Homo sapiens: one gene and its partner. The protein of the gene in region 2 binds, or shares a complex with, the protein of the main gene of each other region. Each region holds a gene or a part of one and is shown on either strand. Other genes may lie near its edges.

Region 1 (3,817 bases), on a different chromosome or scaffold from region 2:
CCACACTAAATCTATTGGTATCAACTAAAAGTAGTTCTGACTACACAAACATTTCAGAATCTTACCCCTATCGCAGCCATACTTCCTACTTACTAAGGAATACAATTCCTACTTATTGATCACTATGCTTAGACAGCCATCCAACAGCTAGAGATGCTTCATTTTCAATTCTGCAACAAAGGTAAATTCTACTTTGACAATTTACCTTTATCAGAGGCCAGTGGGATGGTGGGTGTAAGAGCTTAACCACAACTGGTAGTCCATAGTGAAGGCGAACTGCATTCTGGGCCATCTCTGCTTCTTGGTGTCGGCTGGTCAGATGACGAAGAGCACAGATGGCAGGCTCAGTGATGTCTTCCCTGTCACCAGCCCGAAGGACAGTACGCACAAGAGCCTCTATACCACCCACTTGGCAGACCATCATCTTGTTCTTATAATTATTGCAAGTGAGGTTAGAAAGAATTCCAGCTGCACAGGTGACCACATTTATATCATCTGAACCCAGAAGCTGAACAAGAGTCCCAAGGAGACCTTCCATCCCTTCCTATGGAGATAAAAACAGATGGTCAGTACAAGCACATACTCATCTTGACTCTATTCCCATGGCACCAGTTTACTCAGAATTTACCTGTTTAGTTGCAGCATCTGAAAGATTCCTGAGAGTCCAAAGACAGTTCTGAACAAGACGTTGACTTGGATCTGTCAGGTGAAGTCCTAAAGCTTGCATTCCACCTAGAAAATTAAAAAGGATATAAGGCCCTAGTCATTAGCTAGAAGTGCCTATCAATCCTAAATATCTGTTCTAGCCTTAGGAGGTGTCCTTCTGTATTTCCAGAGTTTACTTCCTTTCACCTAAGTATTTGATTTCCTCTCATTTTCTAGAATGTTGCTCAGTTTCCTTCACTTTGCCAGTTCACCTCACTAGTGACAAACTCTCAAATAGCTACTGTTCCTTTCCTAAGCCGAAAAAGCCTTTGTTATCTCCACTGTCCCCCTTAGGTAATATTCTTATTACTCATTTCTTTTCATCCATTCAATCATTTCAAAAATATTTATTCAGTACCAGGTCCTGTTCTGAGCTGCAGATAGACCAGTGAACAAAAATATTCAGAAGTTCCTACCCTCAGAATTTATGATCTAGTTGGAAGAGGCAGAAAAATATACAATAAACTAAAACCATACAGTATGTCAGATGATATTAAAGGGCTATGGAGAAAAATAATGGAGTGGGGCTGCGATTTTAAATAGATAATTAGGTCACCTCACTGTGAAGGTGACATCTGACTAAAGACCTAAAGAAGCTAGGTAAATTCCTGGGGTAAGAACAATCCAGAAAGACGGCATGAAAACACTTACTGTCAGGGACTTTATACAATTCACTGACTACAAAACATGTGTTCCAAGGTTTACAATCTTCCATCCTTTAGGACCCTTAAATGGGGGACATTTACTCTGGCAAAGGAGTATAAATGGAAGCCCAATGCCCACATAGTAGATTAACTTCGCTCATCCATCTTCAACTTAAATCACTTCTGAATGCAGTAAGAGATACTTTTCCTTGTCTCCTTCATCTTTCGGGTCTGTTTTATTTCCTCAGATGAGGTCTATCTGCTGTAATTCTTATGGTACCCTGCACTTCTCCTTCATAGTGTAAGTTACTCCACTTTCCCTACAAGACAAAGATCACCTCTGTTGGGTTCCTTTTTCATAGTAGCTCCAGCTACTAATAGAATGATCTGCGTAAGACTGATGATCAGGATGCTCAGTATTTGTGAAATGACTACCTTCTTTCCCCTCTTTAAGACTTCATTCCCTCCCTTTACATAACTATTAACTCTAAGAGAATGGATTTTAACCCCAGATGTCCATCAGAATGGCCTACAGAGACTTTAAAACACACACATTCTGATTCAGCAGTTCTAGGGTAAAAAAAAAAGTCCCATACAGATGACTCTGTGGCACCTCTACCTCCCCTTCCCTGCTGCCCTTACCCCTATATACTAAGAGGGAAACTTCCAAATCTCTAGCCTGCCTCTCTTGCATTCTAGTATCATACATTTCCAGCTACCTACTGACCTTTTAAGTCACTTTAAGTCAGCTTCTTAAATTATTATGTTCAAAAATTAAGGATGCCTTCTGAGGGTTCCATTTATCTTCATGGTACCAATGTTGTCCCCTCCACAAACCGTTTTTGGTTGCTCCCTTAGCTCCTATATTATTACATTCTATGATTCTTTCAGGCATCTCAGACATCTGCCCTTTGCTATTGAGTTCTAAAAGCAAACTATTTCATTCCTAAAAGCCTGTAACATCTCAGTAGTCTGGTCTTCTAGCTTTTGGTCATTCAAACTGTTAATCTATACAATGCTATTATTAATATTTTAAACACACCACTGTGATGCTTTGCTATTGATAAACAACCATCGAAAGTGTCTCAGCATCCTTTTAAGATAATAGAAATACTTTAGTATAACCCTGAGGAACCGTTTAGAATTTGGATCCCACCTAGCCTTCCAAACTGACCAAAGTATTCTGTATCTATGGCTCCAAAGCTGGAATAAAGCATGAATAAACTCCATGAGTAGTAACTATCTTATAGGAACCTAGAAAGTCCTGCATGTTATGGCTCTGCTTACCTAACCTCAACCTCATACCAGGCCATCCACCTCATTACTAAGTTCTGTTTATGCAGACCTTCTCTTCAGCACCTGGATCTCCACAATCTCTTTCCCTTTTTTTTTTTTTTGAGATAGAGTCTCACTCTGTCGCCCAGGCTGAAGTGCAGTGGCGCTATCTCAGCTCACTGCAAGCTCCGCCTCCCGGGTTCACACCATTCTCCTGCCTCAGCCTCCCAAGTAGCTGGGACTACAGGCGCCTGCCACCACGCCCGGCTAACTTTTTGTATTTTTAGTAGAGATGGGGTTTCACTGTGTTAGCCAGGCTGGTCTCGATCTCCTGACCTCATGATCCGCCCACCTCAGCCTCCCAAAGTGCTGGAATTACAGGCGTGAGCCACCGTGCCTGACCAATCTCTTTCCTTCTAAGGCAAGCTTGTCCAACCTGCAGCCCATGGGCCACATGGCCTAGGACAGCTCTGAATGTAGCCCAACACAAATTCGTAAACTTTCTTAAACATTATGAGATTCTTTTGCAATTTTTTTTTGTTTTAGCTCATCAGCTATCATTAGTGTATTTGGTGTGTAGCCCAAGACAATTATTCTTCTTCCAATGTGGCCCAGGGAAGCCAAAAGACTGGATATCCCTGGTTCTAAGACATAGCACATGGTGTTCCTTTTCTCTACCTGGAAAACGTTTAACCCTCACTTCTCATATAGACAAGAGACGGTTCCCTCTCATCCTGCAGTCCCACTTAACATCCCCTTTTCAAGGAGACCTTTTCCCTCTCATCTAGACAATTCCCCTCCCCATTAATTCTCATCACTATTTGCTGTCATTTCTCCCATAACACTCATTCTAATTTAGGATCACATATTTTTAAGTATTTTTGTCACCTTCACAAGACTAAGAATTAAGCACGGGGACCCTATCTGTTGTGTTACCCAATGTATACTATGTGCCTATTCCATTTCTTAAAATACATTAGATGCTATTTTCAGAATAAACAAATGAACATAAGAATAACCTGGAAGAACTTAAAGATTCCTAAGCTTCCAGTCCCATACATGTCCAGCTATCTACAGACCTCCCTGTCACTTCAAATAAAACACTATGAGATCTTGATATAAAAATTAACACTCCAGGGATTCTGATTAAATAAATCTCAAAATCTGTATTTTTAGCCTACATTACAGGTTAC
Region 2 (4,395 bases):
CTTCATCTGTCTTGATTCCCTGGAATCTACATAAAGCTGCTGTCATCAATCACTGAAGTACAATCCACAGACCCATTCCCACTGCCCACCCCCACCCAACCACCCTCAGAAGTCAATTAATTTGCTTTGGCACTGCACTAATACGCCAGAGGGAAGAGAATTCAGGTCTGTTTCCTGATCAGACTCATTGTGGGTAGGAGCAGGAGTGAGGGAAGGATGGGGACAGGATTTGATCTGGACTATATTCAAATCCATGCAAACATGGGCTACTAAAAAGGACTTCTGTGAAGTATTGGAGATCAAATTAATGTGCTGTCTGACTAAGGAAACTCGTAACTCTTGATATGGCAAAATGTGACCAAGAAAATTCTCCAAACCTCAAGCAACTGGTACCAAACAAGTTATCCACTTTCAGACAGGGTTTTCCCCCTATTATGTTTATTGGTGTATTCCCAGTGCCTGGCCCAAAGCAGGTATCCAGTAAATAGTTTTAGCATGAGCTCTGAATGAATATTGCCAACCATTTTCACTGTGATTAGAAAAACGGCTGGGTCGTTACTGAACTGTGAACCTAATAGTAGACAGAGGCTCTCTAAGAGAAGATGACGTTTGTCTGGGCAAGGACATATCCATGGGAATATGTGTGCCATGGTAAACGATGTGCAGAGTCAGGGAGGTAAAGGGAGATAAAGGTTTTCAAAGGAAAAAATGAGAAGGATTATATCATTGTTTTGAAATAATTATCTTTGGCTACAAAGATCAATAAGAAGGGTGACACTGGTCTGAGTTTGCACAAAAAGTTGCTGGGAAGATTTCTTCGAAAAAGTATTTTTTGTGTAAGGTTTTAACGGCCTTTGTGCAAAGTTGTTATTTTTGCAGAGCTTTTGTGATAGTTTTAGTTATCAAGCCTACAAATGTGAGAACCCCCTTTTCATAACCTTCTTTGTGTCTATATATCAGGCTTTGTGCCTGTGTGTGTGTGTGTGTGTGTGTGTGTTTTAACATAAGGAACTCCATTCTGATTCTGACAACTTTCGCAGTACCAAGGGCTTTTACGCATTTCCTCATTCACTGGTACAACCACTGGCTCAGATAAATTCAGTTACTAGCTCCATTTTCAGGTGAAGAAAAATAGGCTTAACAAGGTTATGTTAAAACCAGTGCACTGACACCCAGTGCACTCCCAGGTCAGCTCAACCTGAACCTTTGGGGGCAAAACCCAGGCACTGAGATCCCTTGAAGCTCCCTAGGTAAGTTCAACTTGATCCAAGGTAAGGAACAAAGTTAAGCTGGCCTAGGTCCCCAGCGGGCTGTGAAGGAGCCTAGGTCAGGACGCCAAGCAGCCCAGTCCAGAGCTCACAGTTACCAGCCACTGGGCTGCTTCCCACCCTCAGCTGGTATTCAAAGGAAGAAATGATTCCCTCTCCCTACCTACAGAAAGCCAACGAAGCAGATCATAACCAACAAGCGCATGCAACATTACCTCTGTCCACTCTAAGTACAAACAGAGCAAGCCCATGTGTTTCGAATCCTGACTCCACTAGTTTGTATTCCCATTTAAACAGTGGCAGTTGGGGGCAATGGATTTAGCCATTCCATCCCCATGGGTTTGCTCAAATTGCCTTGGATCCAGACAACTGAGATTTCCTCAATCTTATGTAAAGTGTGAACAGAAGTATCATTATAAAACTTGGCAGGGCGCAGTGTCTCAAGCCTGTCATCCTAACACTTTGGGAGGCTGAGGCAGGCAGATCACTTGAGGTCAGGAGTTTGAGACCAGCCTGGCCAACATGGTGAAACCCTGTCTCTAATAAAAATACAAAAACTAGCCGGGCATGGTGGCGTGCACCTGTAGTCCCAGTACTCGGGAGGCTGAGCCAGGAGGTTGCTTGAACCCAGTAGGAGGAGGTTGCGGTGCACTGAGATGTCACCACGCACTGTAGCCTGGATGACGAGACCCTGTCTCAAAAAAAAAAAAAAATTGTGTGTGTTGGCTGGGTGAGGTGGCTCATGCCTGTAAACCCAACACTTCGGAAGGGCAAGGCGAATAAATCACTTGAGCTTAGGAGTTCGAGACCAGCCTGGGCAACATGGTGAAAATCCATCTCTATAAAAAATACAGAAATTAGCCAGCGTGGTGGTAAGTTACTGTAGTCCCAGCTACTCTTGAGGCTGAGGTGGAAGGATCACCTGAGCCTGGGAGGTTAAAGCTGCAGTGAGCCTTGATCATGCCACTGCACTCCAGCCTGGATGATGAAGCCAGACCCTGTCTCAACAAAAGGAGAAAGAAACAAAGAAAGAAAACACGTGTGTGTTGATGTAATCTCACTAAAAATAGTGTGAACTATATAAATTAGTTTTAAACAGGTCCCTTAGCCTGCTCCCACTGTTGCCCCAAACAGACTGGGACCCTTAACTTCCCTTTATATAAATCCAGAGCCCCTGCTACCTAAGCCATTCTCAAGACAGCCAGCCCTGGGTCCCAGCAGGTCACACTCAGTCCCTCTCCCCTCCCTTAGCCTAGAAGGGGCAGGGCCAGCTTGTGCTTTGCTTTCAGTTCCCTGCACCTGAGCACTAGGCTGCAGGCTCAGCTTACCTGCAGCAGCCACAGCAGCAGCACTAGAAGCAGCAGCAGCGAGGGGTGCCTCCCGGATCTCATGGCCATATGGGAATACCCAAGACAGACCCAGAACGTGCAGCTGATGACCAGTCCTCCAAGCTGGTGGTCTCACCGGAGCCACACACCTCCTTCTCAGCCAGCAGCTTCTTCTCTAAAGGTTTTCAGGTCACTTTGGCCCAGATGCTTTCATCCCATCTTGCTCCTCCCTTTTCAGCTTTTCTTGCATTTATCAGAGTGGGGTGGGCTGACTTGTAAGCTTGAACATACGTTTGCCACAAGTAGAGTTCCTAGGAAGGGTGGGGTAGAAACTAAAGCCACCATGGTCCTGCACGTACACAAAAGACTGGCTGGGGTCTGACCTCAGGAACAACAGCTCAGCCAGCGGAAGTAAAACCAGCACCTATCGGAAAGCAGAATTATTTGTTTCTTTGTTTCCTTGTTTGTTCTGGTTTCCAAATAGAAGGTCCAATCATCTCTTTCTATAGCAGGATATGTTAGTGACTATTTTCTATAATCTTATCCTCTTGAACCAAACAAAAAAAACTAGAAAATGACAAGAATGATAACTTTATTAAGGGGGAAGGGATGGGGAAGAATGAAAGAAAAGAAAAATCAACTTTTACTTTCCAAAGCACTAAAAATCGTTATTCCAACAATATCCCAGGGCTCTGGGGTTTTCAAATTATTTCTACTAAAACCTTTTTTAAGCTTAGATTAATCTGCCTTTTTGAGTTTGGAATTAAAGTGGGAGGGAGGAGAGATGGGAAAGAGCCTCCCTATGGACAGGGATCTCTGTGGCAACCCGGGAGTCTTTGCATGAGAATTCTGAAAGAGACAATTTGAGATTATATTATACCAATACTTAAGGTTGCAGTAAGCAAGTTTTAAAACACAATCTGTGATACATTAACCCTGATTACCTTAACATGACCTTTTTATCACATTACCTTGTTTAAAGTAGTAAACAGATAAAATAAAAGGTAAACTTTCTTTGCTTGTTCTAGATATTGGCTTAGGCAAGGATTTCATGACCAAGAACCAAAAAGCAAATGCAATAAAATCAAAGATAAATAGCTGGGACCTAATTAAACTAAAGAGCTTTTGCACTGCAAAAGGAACAGTCAGCAGAGTAAACAGACAACCCACAGAGTGGGAGAAAATCTTCACAATCTATACATCTGACAAAGGATTAATATCCAGAATCCACAATGAACTCCAACAAATCAGTAAGAAAAAAACAATCCCATCAAAAAGTGGGATAAGGACATGAATAGACAATTCTCAAAAGAAGATATACAAATGGTCAACAAGCATATGAAAAAATGCTCAACATCACCAATGATCAGCAAAACGCAAATCAAAACCGCAGTGCGATACCACCTTACTCCTGCAAGAATGACCATAATCAAAAAATCAAAAAACAGTAGACGTTGGTGTGGATGTGACAATCAGGGAACACTTCTACACTGCTGGGGGGAATATAACATAGTACAGCTGCTATGGAAAACAGTGTGGAGATTCCTTAAAGAACAAAAGTAGAACTACCATTTGATCCAGCAATCCCACTACTGGGTATCTTCCCAGAGGAAAAGAAGTCATTATTCGAAAAAGATACTTGCACATGCACGTTTATAGCAGCAAAATTCACAATTGCAAAATCGTGGAACCAACCCAAATGCCCATCAATCAACTAGTGGATAAAGAAAATGTGTATATGCGTATCTATATGTATATATACACATATATGCGTGTATATATGTGTATGTACATATATA

Evidence for each region.
Region 1: CDH26 (region 2) and CTNNB1 share a complex: the UniProt entries of both Homo sapiens proteins name them as parts of the cadherin:catenin adhesion complex.

Annotation. Positions count from the first base shown.
Region 1 is NC_000003.12:41,230,256-41,234,072, reverse strand, and holds part of CTNNB1 (catenin beta-1), read right to left. Parts: intron 733-3,817; coding exon 629-732; intron 545-628; coding exon 206-544; intron 1-205. UniProt on the Homo sapiens protein: Key downstream component of the canonical Wnt signaling pathway.
Region 2 is NC_000020.11:59,956,997-59,961,391, reverse strand, and holds the start of CDH26 (cadherin-like protein 26 isoform a precursor), read right to left. Parts: upstream 2,970-4,395; 5' UTR 2,666-2,969; coding exon 2,597-2,665; intron 1-2,596. UniProt on the Homo sapiens protein: Cadherins are calcium-dependent cell adhesion proteins. They preferentially interact with themselves in a homophilic manner in connecting cells; cadherins may thus contribute to the sorting of heterogeneous cell types.